2 separate regions of the Homo sapiens genome follow, and region 2 is linked to region 1. The links come from fine-mapping of genetic effects on gene expression. A gene starts in region 1. The other region holds a variant in brackets. All regions are shown on one strand. Distances are from middle to middle.

The links. PIP is the estimated chance that this variant, and not a neighbour inherited with it, causes the effect.
Region 2: its variant is fine-mapped to the expression of SERPINB9 in whole blood (TOPMed, PIP 0.95).

Annotation. Positions count from the first base shown.
Region 1 is chr6:2,898,963-2,910,494 of GRCh38, reverse strand. SERPINB9 (serpin family B member 9) reads left to right here and starts at 7,186. Exons shown (of 7, transcript NM_004155.6): 1 at 7,186-7,294; 2 at 9,874-10,051. The coding sequence starts at 9,884. It overlaps SERPINB9-AS1 (SERPINB9 antisense RNA 1), which reads right to left. Exons shown (of 5, transcript NR_110841.1): 3 at 11,376-11,466; 4 at 10,439-10,579; 5 at 9,819-10,012. RefSeq lists enhancers at 1,065-1,898, 1,899-2,732, 7,221-7,722 and silencers at 1,746-2,040, 6,991-7,040, 7,141-7,220, 7,461-7,510.
Region 2 is chr6:2,861,124-2,870,532 of GRCh38, reverse strand. It overlaps the pseudogene SERPINB9P1. Among named protein-coding and RNA genes, the nearest start is that of MIR4645, 12 kb to the right of the region's middle. RefSeq lists enhancers at 241-815, 3,567-3,716, 3,737-3,846, 7,499-7,828. The variant T/C (reference allele first, on the strand shown) is at 4,739.

The sequences.
Region 1 (11,532 bases):
TCTGCTGCCATCACATGTACTTAGAATTGCACTTGTGTAATTATAATTTTTATTTATTATTTTTTTTTTGAGACAGAATCTCAGTCTGTTGCCCAGGCTGGAGTGCAGTGGTGCGATCTTGGCTCACTGCAACCTCCATTTCCTGGGTTCAAGCCATTCTCCTGCCTCAGCCTCCTGAGTAGCTGGGATTACAGGCGCATGCCACCACGCCTGGCTAATTTTTGTATTTTTAGTAGACATGGGGTTTCACCATATTGGCCAGGCTGGTCTTGAACTCCTGACCTCAAGTGATCCACCTGCCTTGGCCTCCCAAAGTGTTAGGATTACAGGTGTGAGCCACTGGGCCTGGTCTAATTTTAATCTTTAATATTGCTTCTAAATTACATCTCCCTTGTTTATTTTTTGATAACCCTCTTCTGATGTCAATTTCAATATGTCCATTCTCCTGCGCCCAAATCTGCGTCTCCTCCTTAAACCCCGTCTTCCAGCATGCAGCACAAGGCTCAGCCATCAGGGCCTCCTCCCCCATCTCACCTCTGGGTGCTGGACTGGTTTCCTCTCAAGGCCTCTTACATTCGCCCCCTTTCTGAGTCATCCCTGCTACTGCCTGGCTTCACAATCCCCCTTTAGCTTCTACACTACCATCTTAACTGCCTTTTAAGCACTCTCTCCAAGCACAGCCTGAAACCTCCCTCTGTCTCATAAACCCCCATTACTGACAGAATAGTTTTTGTAAATAAAAAATCTGTTCATTAAACTGAGGCTTTAAATGTGAGTAGCTTTTATTTACTTAAACGTGTACTCACAGTCCAGAAAAACCCTTCCATAATGCAATACATGAGGCTCAAACAAATTCTACCAGGTTGAAGGGGTGGGTCGCCCCTCCACACCTGTGGGTGTTTCTCGTTAGGTGGAACGAGAGACTTGGAAAAGAAAAAGACACGGAGACAAAGTATAGAGAAAGAAATAAGGGCACCCAGGGGACCAGCATTCAGCATATGGAGGATCCCGCCGGCTTCTGAGTTCCCTTTGTATTTATTGATCATTCCTGGGTGTTTCTGAGAGAGGAGGATGTGTCAGGGTCACAAGACAATAGTGGGGAGAGGGTCAGCAGACAAACACGTGAACAAAGGTCTTTGCATCATAGACAAGGTAAAGAATCAAGTGCTGTGCTTTAGATACGCATCCACATAAACATCTCAATGCTTTACAAAGCAGTATTGCTGCCCGCATGTCCCACCTCCAGCCCTAAGGTAGTTTTTCCCTATCTCAGTAGACGGAACGTACAATCGGGTTTTATACCGAGACATTCCATTGCCCAGGGACGGGCAGGAGACAGATGCTTTCCTCTTGTCTCAACTGCAAGAGGCATTCCTTCCTCTTTTACTAATCCTCCTCAGCACAGACCCTTTACGGGTGTCGGGCTGGGGGACGGTCAGGTCTTTCCCTTCCCATGAAGCCATATTTCAGACTATCCCATGGGGAGAAACCTTGGATAATACCTGGCTTTCCTAGGCAGAGGTCCCTGCGGCCTTCCGCAGTGTTTGTGTCCCTGGATACTTGAGATGAGGGAGTGGTGATGACTCTTAAGGAGCATGCTGCCTTCAAGCATCTGTTTAACAAAGCACATCCTGCACAGCCCTTAATCCATTTAACCCTGAGTCTGACACAGCACATGTTTCAGAGAGCACGGGGTTGGGGGTAAGGTCATAGATCAACAACATCTCAAGGCAGAAGAATTTTTCTTAGTACAGCACAGAATGGAGTCTCCTATGTCTACTTCTTTCTACACAGACACAGTAACAATCTGATCTCTCTTGCTTTTCACCACACCAGGTAGCATGCAGGATGATGTTATCTGAGATCAGTGAGCTGCTGACTGGCTGGATTCCAAGGGTTCTTCTGTAAGATTCAAATACATCCCAGTCATCACTGCTGCCGGGGACTCTCCTGTGGAGGTTGCCTGCTCTCGGCTTATATCCCACTGGGGCAGATTCTGGGCCCTTTGGGTGGATAAGCACCAGCGATCCCAGGAATCATTTTTGAACATTGGCCTGATCTTTGACTATTATAATTGGAGAATACTGGGGACACAGGGGGCCACCTGCCACCTTTCTCGTTGCCTAGCCCCTTCTCCTCTCTACATCCTCTTCTGTAGAACCAAGATTATTTGAGAACAAGAAGATGGGCAGAGGATGGGAGGCTAGTGCCAAGCCCATTATAGCTGAAACCAGGTGATCATGGAAGGGAGTCAGCTCTGGGCTTCAAAGGTTTGCATACAGGCCTTTTCGATTTGACCTCAACATACGTTTCAAGGCTCATCTCCTGCTGCTGTGTTCTTCTTATCCCCCTCCCGACATACGTACTCGAGCACACACACACACACACACACAACCTCGACACACGTACTCGAGCGCACACACACACACAACCTCGACACACGTACTCGAGCACACACACACACAACCTTGACACACGTACTCGAGCACACACACACACCTCGACACACGTACTCGAGCACACACACACAACCTCGACACGTACTTGAGCACACACACACCTCGACACACGTACTCGAGCACACACACACAACCTCGACACACGTACTCGAGCACACACACACAACCTCGACACGTACTCGAGCACACACACACACAACCTCGACACACGTACTCGAGCACACACCTCGACACACGTACTCGAGCACACACACAACCTCGACACACGTACTCGAGCACACACACACAACCTCGACACACGTACTCGAGCACACACACACAACCTCGACACACGTACTCGAGCACACACACAACCTCGACACACGTACTCAAGCGCACACACACAACCTCGACACACGTACTCGAGCACACACACACACAACCTCAACACACGTACTCGAGCACACACAACATCGACACACGTACTCGAGCACACACACAACCTCGACACACGTACTCGAGCACACACACACAACCTGGACACACATACTCGAGCACACACACACACACACACAACCTCGACACACATACTCGAGCGCACACACACACACAACCTGGACACACATACTTGAGCGCGCGCACACACACACACAACTTTGACACACATACTCGAGCACACACACACACACAACCTGGACACACATACTCGAGCACACACACACAACCTCGACACACGTACTCGAGCACACACACAACCTTGACACACGTACTCGAGCACACACAACCTTGACACACGTACTCGAGCACACACACACACAACCTCGACACACGTACTCGAGCACACACACACACACACACACACAACCTCGACACACATACTCGAGCGCGCACACACACACACACACAACCTCCAGACCCTTCCAAGTCCATCTTCAGGGACCTTCCTTGGTCCCTGTTCTCTCAAGCCACCTGGATGATGCAGATCTGAAATGCCGTTTCCCTGTTTGCCCACTTGCAGATCTCTATTTCTTGATCATCTAATCCCAGTATGAAGCCTTTCAATCATTCAACAAATACGCTTCAGCAAATACAGTTGTCTCTTGGTATCTGATTGATTCCAGGATCCTAGCGAACATTGAGCTCTGCGGATCCTCAAGTCCCTAATATAACATGGCGTAGTGTTTGCATATAACCTATGCAAATGTAACCTGTGTAACATCCTCCCATACGCTTGAAATCATCTCTAGATTATGTATAATACCTAATACAATGTAAATGCTGTACAAATAGCCGTTATACTGTATTGTTTTAAATTTTGTATTATTTTTTGATTTTTTAAAAAATTTTTCCATCTGCAGTTGGTTGAATCTGTGGATGTGGAACCTGAGGTACCGGTGGCCAAATGTACAGTGTGCTAATATAAAAATTAGTAAAGGAGGGTTAGGCTGTCCTGAGGCTCGCAGTCCGGTGTGGGAGACAGAAGATTTAGTGGAAAGTCCCTGTGGAGCTTAAGTGTTGGGCTGGGCCATTCTAGGGGTGTTCAGGGCACCTTGGAAGTACCTCAGTGTGCTCGCCGTCTCTCCCTCAGACTGCTGCCCTCTTGGGCCAGATATTGTGTCTTCAACTTGGTACCAAGTTCCCAGCAAGTGCCAAGCCAAGCCCATGGCAGGAAGCGAATTATTTTTTGTTAACTGAATGCATGAGTCTTAGAATGGAACCTGACTGTGTCACAAGCATGATAGGAACATGTTGGGGGCAGGGAAATGTTTTCAAAGTTGTGGAAACCTTTGCAGAATGAATAGGGCCACGCTCCATATTTTGCTCTTTGCAGGACTTTAAGGAAGTGTGTCAAATGCCCACAGGTAGAGCTGGAAAATGTGGCCTTTGCTAAAGATGCAGAAGAGTCTAGAGACGCACAACGGCTGGGTCATTGGTGGTGAGGGACTTTATTTGCAGTGAACTTGGAGCTAGGAAGGAAGTTACTGCTGGGTGGGTCCTCAGTGACGGAGGTCTGCTTACACGTTTGCCAGGTTTTCAGGCCAGCAACATGATTCTGTCATTTCTCTTGGGCTTGTCTGATCATGAAGTAGTGATTTTTGAAAAATCCTTGGACCTGGTGTGAGGATCAAAGACTCCCTTCCTCCGGACAGTGTTGGAAAATCCTGGAAAAATGCTTCCTCTGGGGCCCTGTGTATTTTCTATCTGGGAAAACCATGATGAGCAATCAGATAAAGAAATATTTTTGTGATATGTTGTGACTTTCTTAAAGTAATAAAGTAGAAGAGATTTTAAATGAAAAATATAGGTAATTGCAAAATCTCTTGATTCTTAGCTATTTCTGAACAGATTTCATGCCCCACCCCCCCATACAATTTTTAGTGGGGGAAAGAGGAGAAAGGAAAGGAAAAGCTAAAATAACCTTGTTTTCATAGTTCTGTGTTTTTATCCTTTCCTAAACCCATTTTCCATCGCTGGTCACATGATTTGGATTGAAAGGACGTTTCCTCTAGGCCTCGGAGCACAGAGGCAGCTAACATGTTTGCACTATGCCATCATGGTCCACGTTTACTCAGACACTTTCTTGCAATGGCACTGACAACGATGCCCCCATTTGTTGCCTTAAAATTCATGGGTATGGCCAGGCACAGTGGTTCACGCCTGTAATCCCAGCACTTTGGGAGGCTGAGGCGGGAGGATCACCTGATGTCAGGAGTTCGTGACCAGCCTGGCCAACATGGTGAAACCCCATCTCTACTAAAAATACAAAAATTAGCTGGGTATGGTGATGCATGCCTATAGTCCCAGCTACTTGGGAGGCTGAGGCAGGAGAATCGCTGGAATTGGGAGGTGGAGGTTGCAGTGAGCCAAGATCACGCCATTGTTCTCCAGCCTAGGCGATAGAGCAAGACTCCACCTCAAAAAAATAAATAAGTGGATAAATAAATAACAGCTTTTTGTTTAATCAATTGTCTCTATCATTATAAAGTTTTCTATATCATTGATTTATTCTCTAATCTTTATTATTTCTTCTTTTCTACTGATTATGTGTTCAATGTATTTATACTTTTTCTAGTTTTTGAAGGTAGAAACTGAGGTCATTGATTTGAAGCCTTTCTCCTCTCCTAATATAGGCATTTCATGCTGCAAAATTTCCCCAAAGCTGACTTAATAACATCCTACAAATTTTGATGTTTTTATTTTCATTTTTTATTAATTTCAAAATACATTCTAATTTCCCTTTTGATTTTATAATATTTTTATAAGTATTATTCAGTTATAAAAAGAAATAAAGTACTAACAAATGCTACCTGGAACCATCAAGAATGACCCTTGAAAACATTATGCTAAGTGAAAGAAGGCAGTCAGGAAAGACCACATATTGTATGATTCAATTTGCATGAAATCTTCACAGTCGGTCAATCCGCAGGGCCAGAAAAGAAATCTGGAGGTCGGAGCCTCTCCCAGAAGCCAGGGGTTGTGGGAAGGAGGAAATGGAGAATAATTGCTAATGGGTATCACAGTTCCTTTTAGGGTGATGAAAACCTTCTGGAGTTAGATAGTGGTGAGAGTTGGACAGCTTTGTCAATATACCAAGAACTATTGAATTGTATGCTTTAAAAGGATGCATATTATGGTCCGTGAATTGTCTTTTAATAAAGGTTTTATTTTTAAAAACAAGCTAGGCACCTAGGGTGTCAAATTGAAGGAGGCTCTGATTCTCAGGGCCGCGCAAATGCAGGGTTGGCACCTATGCGTGTGGCCCTCCTGAAATTTTGTGCCTTAGGCACCTGCCTTGCTTCTCCCTAATTCAGGCCCTCAGGAGAAAGCTCTAATTCTGGTCAATTTGAAACAGGAGGGCACGGCTTCTGGGCGACGCTCCGTGCTCCAGAGAGAGCCATTTGTCTGTTCCCTTCCTCTGGACGTCACCGTGCCAACATGAAATGCTTCCAATTGAGTCCAGCCTGAGATGGAAGGGGGTGGGGGGATATCTGATGACATCACGAACTGCTGCATCAACTCCCCCGAGTCCCTGCCTCTGGACCCCCTGATAGAGGACACAAGGAGTGTCCTGAGCCCGTGTGACTCAGTGTCTCTTCCCATCACTTTGCGGGAAAATGGGGCTGCTTACACCACACCGCAGCCCAAACACCTGTGGCTAGAGAAGGGCTTGGGTACTAGGAGTGAGGACGCCTGGTTCTGGGCCCAGGACTAGTACTAGTTAGTGGTGGGACCTGGAACAAATGCTTTGGTTCTAAGTGAATCCCCCATATTCATGACAAGAGGCGTGGAACACAGACCCATGGGACCTTCCCACTGGAACACGGAGCTTGGCTGTCACCCGACCTTCGCTTCCTTAAGTACAAAAGCCCAGGGTTCCAGGCTCCGTCTCCTTTCCCGCAGACGCCTTGTTTCTTCGCGCGGAGGCCCTGGACGCCGCAGGCTCCCAACCTACTTCTCTGGGCTGTCAGGTTCTGAACCCGGTCCTGAAGAGGCCCTGGCGCCGGGGGTGGGTGAGGCCGAGCGCGCGCCTTGGGAACCTGGCCGGCCTCAGGCTGGCGGGAGCATTGGCGGACATCGCCCCGGGCGGGGCGGACTGGGGGGACCCTGACCTGACCCTGCTCCCAGCTCTGACCTCGGCCACCACGCGCGGCGCCCCCGCTGGTCCCGCCAGGCTCCGCCTAAACGCAGAAAGCGTGGGAGGCGCCCGACCCTGCGGTATAAAAGCGGTGCCTGCAGAGGCCCTAGCGGGAGTCCGCGGCGAGCGCAGCAGCAGGGCCGGGTCCTGCGCCTCGGGGGTCGGCGTCCAGGCTCGGAGCGCGGCACGGAGACGGCGGCAGCGCTGGACTAGGTGGCAGGTGAGGGCGTCCCCGCGCACGGCTGGGGTAGGGGACGGGAGTGGCGAGCTTCAGGTCCACCGGCTGCCACCGAGTGATGGGACCGGAGGACAGGAGAGGTCGCTCAGCCAAGAGCCCCGGGGAGGCGGTGCCTTCTCGGTGGGGTCAGCAACGGTCTCTGGGGGGTGCCTGGGAGCGGCAGCCGGTCTCCGCCTTGGCGGCCCACAGCCACCGCGGACGCCTCCCTCCCGGATGTCTCCTCGCTGCCCTTCCCTGGCCGAAGCCCTCCCCTGCAGCCTCCTCCCCACCTGCCGGCCCTGTGTTCTCACTGCTCTTCTCTGCTCTGGGATCCGCAGGATGACGTCTGTCCTGCTTCTTCACTGTCCTTTACAGTCACCAGTCTCGGCCGGGCGCAGTGGCTCACGCCTGTAATCCCAGCACTTTGGGAGGCCAAGGCGGTCGGATCCTTGGAGATCAGGAGTTCGAGACCAGTCTGGCAAACGTGGTGAAAACCGGTCTCTACTAAAAATACAGAAATTAGCCGGGCATGGTGGCCCACGCCTGTAATAATGTCAGCTATGTGCTGAGGCAGGAAAATCACTTCAACTCGGGAGGCAGAGGTTGCAGTGAGCTGGGATTGCGCCACTGCACTCCAGCCTGGCAGACAGAGTGAGACTTCGTCTCAAAACAAAAAAAAGAAAAACACAAAAAAACCACCACCAACAACAACAAAAAAATAAAGCCACCAGTCTCGGAGTTTCAAATCTGAGCACTCTTATCCATCTTAATTCTTTCAATAATTCAGCTAAACGAATGGGGTCCTGAGAATCTGCAGAGCCAGGCTCAGCGCTCGCCTGCAGAGCCTGCGGTCTGTGGGGACCACCAGCAAGATGAGGAATCACCTTCGGGAGGAAGGGTCGTGCTGGGGAGGGTCGCGCCGGCGGGGTCAAGAGAACCTCCTCCAGGGTGGGAATCAGAGCCTCCGGGCCGCGGTGTTTGAGGGTGAGTGGAATTAATGCCGTGATGGACATGGGGCCTTCTAAGGGGGACCAACAGTGTTTGTGAAGAGTTGACTTTGGGAGGGGTTCAGGATGGCCAGAGGTGGAGGCTGTGACCTCAGTGAGTCTGGATCAAGGGAGGGGGCAGGTGGGTAAGACACCGTTTTAACAAGGTGGCTTTGAGCGGCCACCTTTGAGGGGCCTAAGGGCCCCTGGGAGATTTAGGAGGAAGGACAAGAGGATTAAGACACCGCTTTCTGAGGTGCCGTGTGGCTGTGGCGTGGGGGTGGCTGGGGGAGTGGGTTGTGTTCATTGTCCAAGGCTCTCCAGCGCTTTGCGTGGCGTTTTGGGGAGCACAGATGAGGTGTCCCGACAGTGGGGAGTGGCTCTAGGGAGACCAGAGGCTCGGGAGGGGGCCTGGGCATTAGACCAGGCACAGAATCCGAAGTGGGAAGAAATGTGGGCGTAGAGGGCAGGCCTTGGGGATGGGTGTGGGGGAGGAGGGGGAGATGGAAAGGAGTCAGGGAGGTCTCCCAGGCTCACCTGGAGGAGTCAGGGTCTCATTTCCAAGTGCACTGGGAACTGCAGCCTGGGGGTGGGGGTTCATTTGGTTTCAGGCCTGTGGCCAAGAGACCCACCCCCTCACATTCACACTTTGGTCTCCAGTGGCTTCACAGGCACCACCTCCTTGTTCTCGCCTGTTTTACTCCTCACCTTGGGCTGTTTCTTGCCTTTCCATTCTGGCGTTCTGCAGGGATCAGATCCTTCCTCTCACGCACAATCTACACTCATGGCTTTTGCTGGGAGTAATGAGTAAAGCTCCCAAATAGATGTTTCTGAGTTAGGAAGCACATTAAAAACAAAACAAAACGAAGCAAAACCACACAATTGTCCAAGTCCCACTCTGTGTTCAAGGGTCACATGATGTGCAGAAGCTGGTGATGGGCAGGAGCTCTGAATGGAGTTACTGGGATGTCAGGCCGCGTGGGCCTGGGGCAGGCTGGCTGACTGGGAGCAGCCTGGCTCCACCCCGGCTGTCCAGGACGCACTCACTTGCCTCTATGGATGACAGCTCCTTGCCTCACAGCTGTCTGTCTCTGGGTCAGATTCAGCATCTCAGTGTCTTTTGTGTATCAGCTGAATGTCAGGGAGGCCACAGGCTGGTGCCCAGTTGAAAATCTCACAAGGACTCTTTGTAAATGCATGCAAGAATAAGAACAGCATTTTCCTCCTCCTCCCTGACCCCATTCTCCTCCTCAGATGGGACGATCTGGTCCTTACGGAAAGAATTGGAGTTCACTGCTTCCAGCTCTGTGTGTGTGTGTGTGTGTGTGTGTGAGAGAGCGAGCTCTGCAGGCGAGCCAGTTCTGTTGCTATTGCTGGTTTGAGCTGCTGCCATCACCACACTTAGCTAATTACCTTAACATTTGCACTTAATTTTTGGCCGGAGACTAACAGAAAATAAATTTTTCTCCAATTTAAAATACTTACGAACTTTAAGAAGAAAACAAAAAGTACGATTCCAAAATTGCCCTGTAGTAAGTAGGTCAGTAACATTCAGGGAGTGTGGAAACTGCATTTCTCTTTATTCTTCCCTTCCAGGCCCTGCATCATGGAAACTCTTTCTAATGCAAGTGGTACTTTTGCCATACGCCTTTTAAAGATACTGTGTCAAGATAACCCTTCGCACAACGTGTTCTGTTCTCCTGTGAGCATCTCCTCTGCCCTGGCCATGGTTCTCCTAGGGGCAAAGGGAAACACCGCAACCCAGATGGCCCAGGTAAGCTTGCCCGTCCGCCAGGAGCAGGGACTGGCCTGGGCTGCGTGTTCTGTCACCAGCTTCACACTCACACTCCAGAGCCACTGAGAAAGGAGGGCAGGACTGGGGCCCGAGTGTGCACTGGCCGTTTCAGGGAGGCGGGGTCCACTGGGGAAGAAGTGGGGCAGGGCAGGGAGGCAGGAACTCTGCTCCACCGAGATTTATTTGGGGGAAACTTTCCTCGGTTAATCCCTTGGAAAAGACCATCCAAGCTGTCTTGTCCTAGCGCAGAATCTTTCTTTAGAAAATGACACTGAAATTATTTGAAACATAAGTTGCAAAGAACTACCTCTTTTTTGGAGCAAGAGACTTTGTAACTAAACTTTCATTGGTAAGGAAGGTTAATACCTGTTTCAAGTTGTTTCTGTACCAACAGCTCAGGGAGGGCATCAACAGAAATTTGCAAGAAGGATTCCAGGGCAAGTGCTTCATTACAGCTGCACACTGTGCAGGTACTGCTCAGCTCAGTCTCACCAACATTCAGAGAACCTGTGGAAATGATTCAAGATCAGTGCTTGTCCCCAGACCTTTGTGGAAAGGAGAGGAGACATACACGTGAGATGAAACCGAAAAGCGCCATCCCTGAGTGCAGGCCGCTGGACACGCCTTCATCATGGGAGTTGTCCTTTGTTCAATATGACTGTCTTTTTCTTTGATGACGCTTTTCAATAGTGAATTACTCATTTTAATAATTTCCCAGCTCATTGTGTGAAGAAGGGAGGGTTTATGTGTAAAGGCTACCAGCCTTAATAATAAGCACAGAGAGGCTCTCTAAAAGATATATATATTTGGAAATAGGGCATTGCAATGAAAATACGCATGCCATGGCAAGCTATGTGCACATTCAGGGAGGTGAAATAACACTAAGATTTTTAAAGGAAAAAGTAAAGAGGATTACATAATTCCTTTGAAATAATTATTTTTGGCAAAAAGATCAATAACGAAGGTGATGTCAGTGTGAGGTTGGATGGGGAGTTCCTGGGTAGATGTCCTTGCACAAGTATTTTGTTGTGTAAGGCTGTGATGGCCTTTGTGCAAGAGCGTAGGTTTTTAGAGTCCTTTGTGATAGTTGTGTTATCAGGCATTCAAGCGTGAGAACCCTCTCTTCATGGCCTTCCCTGTCTGTTTGTCAAAGGTTTTTGGTTTTGTTTTTTTAATATTAGTGACTCCATTTTGATTCTGAAGTTCCTTATGCTGAAATCTGTATGATCTTTTTCTATGTTTTAGGCTCACTGATAAACCCTTATAGAAAGCTTTTTTGAGAGCACCAAAATTGTCTGGGTACCTTCTTAGGTGTGAGACTGAGCTCTCTCCATGGCTCCAGTGTTCAACTGGATGCTTGTGAGACACCAAACATACTGAGTACACGTTGCTACCTGTAACATGCAGGGAAGCGTTAATGGCAGCAGAAATATTTTAAAGAATTATTTATTTTTCCTTCA
Region 2 (9,409 bases), 39 kb after region 1:
CTGTGTGAGCCACTCTCTGAGGTGGCCAGGCCAGAGCCGGCTCCCTCTTACCGGGAAGTGTGGAGGGAGAGGAGAGGTGTAGAGGGAGAGGCGCAGGTGGGAACCGGGACTGCGCGCCACACTCACAGGCCAGCATGAGTTCCAGGTGGGCGCAGGCGTGGGCGGGCTCAGCAGGCCCTGCACTTAGAGCGACCAGTAAGGGGCTTCGTACCCGGGCCAGCAGCTGCGGAGGGCGTGCTGGGTCCCCCAGCACTGCTGGCCCCCCCAGCACTGCTGGTCCGAGCGCGCCGCGCTAGAATTCTCGTTGGGCCTCCCCACAGGGCAGGGCTCAGGACCTGCAGCCCGCTATGCCCCAGCCCCCCGACCCCGGTGGTGGGCTCCCGCATGCGCCCAAGCCTCCCTGCTGGGCGCCGCCCACTGCTCCGCGGCGCCTGGTAGCATCCACTGCCCAAGGGCTGAGAAGTGCAGGTGCCTGGTGCCGGACTGGCAGGCAGCTCAGCCAAAGCAGCGGAATCCACTAAACAAAACCACCTAGGCTCCTGAGTCCAGTGGGTACTTGGAGAACTTTTATGTCTAGCTAAAGGATTATAAATATACCAGTCAGCACTCTGTGTCTAGCTCAAAGTTTGTAAACACACCAATCAGCAGCCTGTGTCTAGCTCAAGCTTTGTAAACGCACCAATCTGTGCTCTGTGTCTAGCTAATCTAGTGGGGACTTGCAGAACCTTTATGTCTAGCTAAAGGATTGTAAATACACCAATCAGCACTCTGTGTCTAGCTCAAGGTTTGTAAACAGACCAATCAACACTCCGTGTCTAGCTCAAGGTTTGTAAACACACCAATCAGTGCTCTGTATCTAGTTAATCGAGTGAGGACTTGGAGAACTTTTATGTCTAGCTAAAGGATTGTAAATGCACCAATCAGCACTGTGTCTAGCTCAGGGTTGTAAATGCGCCAGTCAGCACCCTGTCAAAACGGACTAATCAGCTTTCTGTAAAATGGACCTATCAGCTCTCTGTAAAATGGACCAATCAGCTCTCTGTAAAATGGACCATTAGCAGGAGGTGGGTGGGGCCAGATAAGGGAATAAAAGCAGGCTGCCTGACCTAGTAGCACAAACTGCTGAGTTTGTTTTCTGTGTTGGGGTTTTTGATTTTTTTTTTTTACGTTCTTCAGGCTAAACTGTGGTGCGTTTTGTTTTTTGATTCTTGGGCTCTGTGTTTTTAGGAGCTGTAATACTTCACATGAAAGTTTGTGGGTTAACTCTTGAAGCTGATGAGGCCATGAACTAGCTAGCAGAAAAAATTGTGCCTATCTGAATGTCAAAAGGAATAAGCTCTGGGTGTCTTTATGTCTTTCTTAAGAACTGTAACGCTCACTGTGAGGTTTTTGTGGCTTTTTTTGCTTAATTTAGGTGTGATCAAGAATCCACAAATTTCAGACATTACTTTCCACTGAAGCTTAATTATTTTAGATCGGAGCCTAAGCATTGGTGTTTAAAACTTTCTCAGGTGGTTTTAGTTACCTTCTGGGGTTGAATCAAATCTGGCTCTAAGTGGTTTTCTGTATGGGCAATATTAGAATTGTTAGGATTCGTGAGACCTCTGAATTTTCAAGCCCCATCTGAGACTTCAGGAATTTTGAGAATGGGCATTTCCGGGTGAGTGATTCTGATGCATGCACTTACCTAGCCCAACCCCTCATGTCACGGGTGGTAACAAAGCTGAGAGCCTAACTTGTTACTTCTAATTCCAGCCGAGGTGGAGTAACAAGTATCAAGAGTTATCCTCCCATTGTTATTAACCGTAAACTGGACAATGTATACGAAACAACTGGTGGGTTGGTTTGGATCTTGTGGAAGCTTGGTTTTTATTAGATAATAGTTTAGAATAATCTTCTAGGGCTATACTAGCCCTAGTCCTGAGGCCTGAGATCTCTGGACTCTCAACTACATGCTGAAATGTCTAGCATATTTTAAAAAGTTATTAAACCTACGTAGTGTAAGTATGACCCATAACCAGGAAAAAGTCAATAAAAACACACGAAAGTGAGACAAATGTTAAAATTAACAAAGACTGCAATGCAACTCTTAGAAATATGTTAAAGGATTTAAGGAGTAGATGGCATAGCGAGTGAACAGATAGAAAACCTCAACAGAAAAATAGAAACTTAAAAATTACTGGGAGGCTGAGGTAGGAGAATGGCGTGAACCCAGGACGCGGAGCTTGCAGTAAGCCGAGGTTGCGCAACTGCATTGCAGCCTGGGCGACAGAGCGAGACTCCATCTCAAAAAAAAAAATTCTGAAACATTTAAAATGAAACATTTGGCAGATGAACTTAATATTGGATTGGACATTTTAAAAAATCAGTGAATTATATACATTACTTTTTACCCCTAAATACGTTTTTATATACCCCTAAATGTGCATTTTTTATTTTTTAAAAGGGCATTTTCCTATGTAACCGTAATACCTCATACTTATTAAAATGAACAATTAGTTTGTCATACTGAATCCATATTCAAATTTTCCAGCGGTCTTGGAGATACTTTTATAGCTTGTTTATTTGAGCAAGAATCCATTCAAGGGTTATGCATCAAATTTCATTGTGATGTTGCTTAAAATTCTTTTAATCCAGAACACCACCTCAGCATTGTGTCTCCTTCATTTTCTGACACATTGATTTAAGAGCTCATTCTTGTACAATATCCCACGAACAAGGTTGCCAGTGGTATTCATTTTAGTCGATTTCAGCCAGAATAGGGTTGGGAGAAGAAAAGATGCATGAAATAAAGTATTTCTGGATCTTCATGTTTTTAGCTGCTAAATCAGAGCTCTCGTGCCTATGCATATTTCATGCAACAGAAAATCGCCTGGGCTTTGTTAAATGTCAATACATCTCTCTGGCATCATTTATAATGGCTACCTTGTGATCCATTAGGTAACTTAACCATAATGTATTATTCAATCATGTAAAAACAGACATTCCAGCTATTTATATTTTTACCATTACAGATATCACTTTGATAATTTGATGGGAGGAAAATTGCACGTCATTATTTAAATTTTCATTTATTAGTCACCCATACTTCTTTTAGAATTAGCCTATTTTTATTTGCCTACTTTTGTCCTTGGGATATTCATTTTTTTGTCTTGCAGTTTTTAAGCACTCTCTACCAATAGATTTTTCTTAATGTTATATACATATCGCAAGATAATTCCCGTGCTTTTAATTTACATATTAGTGTTATTAATATTTTAAGTAAAGAACTTTTTTTATTTAAATAGTCCACTTTAGTATTTTTTTTGTTTTCTTCCTCCAGAGTCTTGCATAGAAAGTCTTCTTGACACTCAGATTATATAAATATTCACTTGTCTTTTTCCTTAGAGCTTTTATAATTTTGTGTTTTTGCATTAACTCATTTGGAACTTGTTTTAGACTAACATGAGAAGTTTAATTTTTAAGGTAATAAGTTTTATTGTGTGTATTAAAAACACTGAGGCTGGGCATGGTAGCTTACACCCGCAATCCCAGCACTTTGGGAGGCCAAGGCAGGAAGATGGCTTGAGCCCAGGAGTTCAAGACCAATCTAGGCAAGTAAGACCAGTAAGTCAAGCCTAATGAAGCCATGAGTGATAAGAAAAAGGCATTATGAACTTAGCAACACTACCAGTAAGTGGGAGTAAAGACCTTTAAGAGGTTTTTTTCCTCACACCAATCAGTTCTTTGACACCAACTGGGTGTCCAACAATTCAATTCAATTCTGACAGTACTTAACGTCCAGTTAGAGGGCTCAGCCCCCAAGACTACCCCCTCTTCAGACACCTGTCACAAATGGGGTGCCCAGGCTCTTCACACTGCTGCCCGGCCAAGTACAAATTTGGGGATTCCCATAACCTCCCTCAGGCTTAATAATTTACTAGAATGACTCACAGAACTCAAGAAAGCACTTTATTATTATCACCAGTTTATTATAAAGGCAGAAACAACCAGTGGAAGAGATGCAGAGAGCAAGTTAAGGGGGGTCGGGGGTGCGTGCAGAGAGCTTCCATTCCCTCTCTAGACACTCCACCCTCTCAGCACCTGTCTGTTCATTAACCCACATGCTCCCTCAACCTGGTCTTTTTGATTTTTATGGAGGTTCCATTACATAGGTGTTATTGATTAATTCACTGGCCATTGGTGGCTGAACTCAATTCCCAGCCCTTCTTCCCTCCCCAGGGGATCACCAAGAGCCGCCTCATCAGCATAAGCTCAGGTGTAGCTAAAGCGGCTCATTTTGAATAGCAAAACACACTCGCATTACTCAGGAAATTCCAAGGGTTTTAGGAGCTCTGTGCCGGGAACTGGGGATAAACACCAGATATATTTTTTATTATATCACGAACCTAAATGAAAGTAACCTCTTAGGAAGCTTGAAAAGGGATGAAAATAGCTAGTTAGGAGTTGTCGACTGACAGGAAGAAGCTGAGGCAAAATTAATATGAGAGTTTATTTGGGTCAGGGTTGAGAACAGCTGCTTGGGAAACACTTCCAAGTTGTCTTGGGAAGTGCCCAGAGAACAAAGGATGAATCAGGAGAGGAGGCAATTACCAACATTGTTGGTTAAGAATTCTCATTGGTTTACAGAAATAACATTGATTAGTGATTGGCTATAGTTGAACTATAGGGTATAAGTTATGTTGTCCAGCATATGCCGTCGTTAGGTTAATTTATAGCTATTGGTGGTGGCATTGGG[T/C]CAAGAGTCCACATAGCAGGCAGATTACATACATACATAGCTCAAGCAGTGAGTGAGATGTGACTACTGTCACATTTCAATGCCTGTCTGGACCTGATGACTTAAAGGGGTTCATATTCCTCAGATAAAAAGTTTCCTTTCTGGCCCGGACTGGTGGCTCACACCTGTAATCCCAGAAATTTGGGAAGCCAATGTGGGAGGATCACTTGAGGCCAGGAGTTTGAGACCATCCTGGGCAACCTAGTGAGACCTTGTCTCTACAAAAAATAAATAAAATTAGCCGGGCGTGATGGCACACGCCTGTAATCCCAGCTACTCAGGAGGCTGAAGTAGGAGGTTTGCTTGAGCCCAGGAGGTCGAGGCTGCAGTCAACTGAGGTTACACCACTGCACTGCATCCTGGGTGACAGAGTGAGATCCTGAGAAAGAAAGAGAAGCAGAGAGGAGGGGAGTGCAGGGGAGGGGAGGGGAAGGGAAGCGGGGAGGGAGGGAGGAAGGAGGGAGAGCGAGTGGAAGGGAGGGAGGGAAAGAAAGATTCCTTTCTTCTTCAGAGACAAATGCTCAGTGAGTTCTATCCTACGTGTTGCAAGGTGAAGGGAGGGGGGTCACAAAATCACGACAGAATCCCATCTTCAAGGAGCTTAAAATCTGGTCATGGAATACAATGGACAAATGGGCCGATTATTTTACGACTGACCCTCCCCACAACAGGCTGCCCCGTCTCCATTTGGTTATGCCTGGTCCGTTGCTGCTGTTGCCCTCTCTTCTCAACACTCTGGGATTGTTGGTAGCTGACTCTCTCATCAGGACAATTTTTAGGGTTTTCATTTCTCAGAAAAGTTGTTGACTATGGAGAAACAAGAAAGATTGTGGCAATGAATACAATTCTCATTCCTATGAAGGCATAAGAAGGATGGGTCTTTCCCCCAAAACTTTAAAGAATCTTGCCAGAAATTGTATCAGGCCAAGCCAGAGGGGCCGTCCTTTGCAGAGGCTGCAGCGGTGTCCCTGCAACACACACAATTGCTTAGGTGGTGAAAGCGACAGAGGGTGGGGTCTTTAATTTTTATGTTTTCTGTTGTTAACAGCATTGTACTTTATAAAGGACAGAAATTTATTTCCACAACTATTTCTACTACATATAAATTGGTATGTGGTAGATAAGAAAATTATTAGGTAAGGAAAAGCAATCAATTTTTAATTATTCTGGGAGACAAAAAACAAAAAACTTTAGAACAATAGTCATCAGCAAATGATTTCTTTTCTTTTTTTTTTTTTTTTTTTTTTTTGAGACAGAGTGGGCTCACTGCAACCTCCGGCTTCTGGGATCAAGCAATTCTCCTGCCTCAGCCTCCCGAGTAACTGGGATTACAGTCATGCACCACCACGCCCAGTTAATTTTTTTGTGTATTTTTAGTAGAGACGGGGTTTCACCATGTTGGCCAGGCTGGTCTCAAACTCCTGTCCTCAAGTGATTCACCCGCCTCGGCCTCCCAAAGTGTTGGGATTACAGGTGTGAGCCACTGCACCCAGCCCAAACATTTCTTTAGTTATCTCTTACTAAATGATGGAGGAGGCATATGCCTTACATAGCTCAGGGCATGGCGGCCAAAGAATCCACTGGTATTTGGAGCAGTTTCTTCCAGTTCAGCTTAGTTTAACAAACATGTAGGAATGTTGACTTTGGCCCAGGCCCTGGGGATATAAAGATGAAAAGGTAATTCTGCCCTGTAAACTCTTTGGGCAACTGGGAGTGATCCTGTATTCAGTGTGTCAAGTCCACCTCCCCTTGGGGAGCCTTAAGAAGCCTCAGCCTGGGGGGATCATGTATGGCCTTCCTCCTAGGAGATGTGTTTGGATGATTAAATCCACGAGTGTATCTCAGTCCTTGGTGCAATGCCTGGGGCCGGATAGGTCCAGCGAGGTTGGATGTCGGCATGTAATCCCAGATACCCCACCTTCCACAGCTGTGCATCAGTGTTTCAAAGGAAAGTGATCTACACAGTTTTATTAAATAAACAACAGCAGCAACTTGTGTGTGGGGTAGGGAGTCTTAAAATCAGCAAGGTAAGGATAGAACGATGTCTCCATGTCTATCTGTGCAGAAACTGTCTTGAAACACTAGGACACTGTCATGGGCTGGATTGGGTTGTTCTTCACTCCCCTCAATTCATATGTTAAATTCCTAACCTCCAGTATCTTGGAATGTGACTGTATTTGGAGACAGGGTTTTTACAGGGGTAATTAAGGCAAAATGAGGTCATTAGGTCACCCAATATGACTGGCGTCCTTATAAAAGGGTTAATTTGGACACGGACACATACAGAGGGAAAACACTAAAGAGCTATAGAGAGAGGAGGGCCATCTGCAAGTTAAGGAGGGAGGCCTGGAACATATTCTCCCTCTGAGTCCCAAGAAGGAACCCACCTTACTGACACCTTGATCTTAGACTTTCAGCCCTCAGAAATGAGACAATAAATACCTTTCTGTTGTTTAAGCTGCCCAGCCTAAAGTACTTTGTTATGTATGGCAGCCCTAGACAGTTAATACAAATATTAATATCAACAATTCGTCACAATGATTCCTTTTGGGTTTTTAAATGCAAATGAGTGCCTAAACACCAGAGATGATTTTCTCTTTAGCTGAATCATGTGAGTATTCTGAGTCAAGTTTATATTTTTAATAAGTTAAAACATTTTGCCTTCCCCTTTCCGTCATCTGGTTGTGGTCATCTGATTTGAATAACATCTGCTTTCTTTTAGAATGAGAACAAAGCCGTTACACTCATATATAAAATACCTTCTCACCACCTGTTTTGGGGGATTAATGGTAGTTTAAAAATTAAGTGCAACTCAAGTTGTGGCCAAGCAAGGCCGACTGACTTCCTGAGATGTTAGGATCCTGTTCTTGGGGCCACCTCATTTGTTTGCATGGCTCCAGGGGACACCTTTCACATTGGGTATGACTGGAGCATCATCCTTGAAGGTGGGTGACTCTGCAGCCCTGCCTACCCTCTGGTGACATCTGAAGTGTTGTTGACATCAGCTTTAATTCAGAGGAACTCTACACAAATGTCTTGGGTACTCCTGTGTGCTGAATACTGTGGGAAGACCATTCTTCAAGGACTTTATGATCCACTCCAAAGGTGGAAAGGCAAGCCCACCTTCAATATGACATAGAACATGGTAACAAAATAGATGTGTAAAGCACTTTTGCTACTTAGAAACACTTTAGATCCATTTGACTATTTGATTTTTTCTAGCTTTCTTGAGGTATAGTTGACAAACAAAAATTGTATACATTTGCAATGTACAATGTGATGTTTTGATATATGTCTTAGTCCATTTTGTGCTGCTATAACAGAATACCACAGACTAGGTAATTTATAAAGAACAGAAATTTATTTCCTCACAGTTCTGGAGGCAGGGAATCCAAGATTGAGGGTCTGGCATCTGGTGAAGGCCTTCTTGCTGCCTCGTCCCATGGTGGAAGGTGGAAGGCAAGAGAGGATGAGAGACAAAAGAAGGCCCAAATTGTCCTTTTATAAGGAATCCACTCCCCAGATAAATGCATTAATCCATTCATATGGGCAGAGCCCTCATGATCTGATCACCTCTTAAAGGTCTCACCTCTTAATACTGTTACAGTGGTAATTAAATTTCAACATGAGTTTGGGAGGGAACAAACATTTAAACCATAAATACAGATACATTGTGAAATGATCACCATAGTCAAGCAAATTAACATATCCTCCACATTTACTTATCATTTGTGTATGTGATGAGAACATTCAGGATCTACTCTTAGCACATCTCAAGCATACATTCTCATGAACTTTCATAGCCATGCTGTACCTTAGATTTCCAAAATGTGTTAACTTTGAGTACCTTAAACTTTTTGAGGTAGTCTGTCACGCAGGCTGAAATGCAGTGGTGTGATCTCAGCTCACTGCTACCTCCCCCACCTGTGTTCAACTTATCTTTCCACTTCAGCCACTCAAAGTACTGAGATTACAGGTGTGAGCCAGAATGCTCAACCCATAATTCAAACTTTATACCCTTTTGTGACCGGGAATTGGTGGGGTTTTGGTCTCACTGACTTCAAGAACAAAACCGCAGACCCTCATGATGTGTTATAGCACTTAAGGTGGCACATCTGGAGTCTGTCCTTTATTGATGTTCAGATGTATTTGGAGTTTTTTTTTTCTGGTGGGTTCACGGTCTTGCTGGCTCAGGAGGCAAGCTGCAGACCTTCGTAGTGAATGTTACAGTTCTTAAGGCAACGCATCTGGAGTTGTTAATTCACTCCTGGTGGCCTCATGGTTTCACTGTGCTTAGGAGTGAAGTTGCAGATCTTCACCGTGACTGTTACAGCTCACAAAAGCAGTGTAGACCCAAAACGAGCAACAGTAAGATTTATTGCAAAGCGAGAGAAAAGAGGAAGGGAGGGGGAGGAAGGGAGAGGAAAGAGAGAAGAAGAGAAGGAGAAGGGGGAAGAAAAGAAAAGAAAAGAAAAGAGAAAGAAGAAGAAGAAGAAGAAGAAGAAAAAGCTGCCACAGTCTGGAAGGAGATCTGAGCAGGTTGTCAATGCTGGCTCGGGCAGCCTGCTTTCATTCTCTTATCTGGCCCCACCCACATCCTGCTGATTGGTAGAGCCTAGTGGCCTGTTTTGT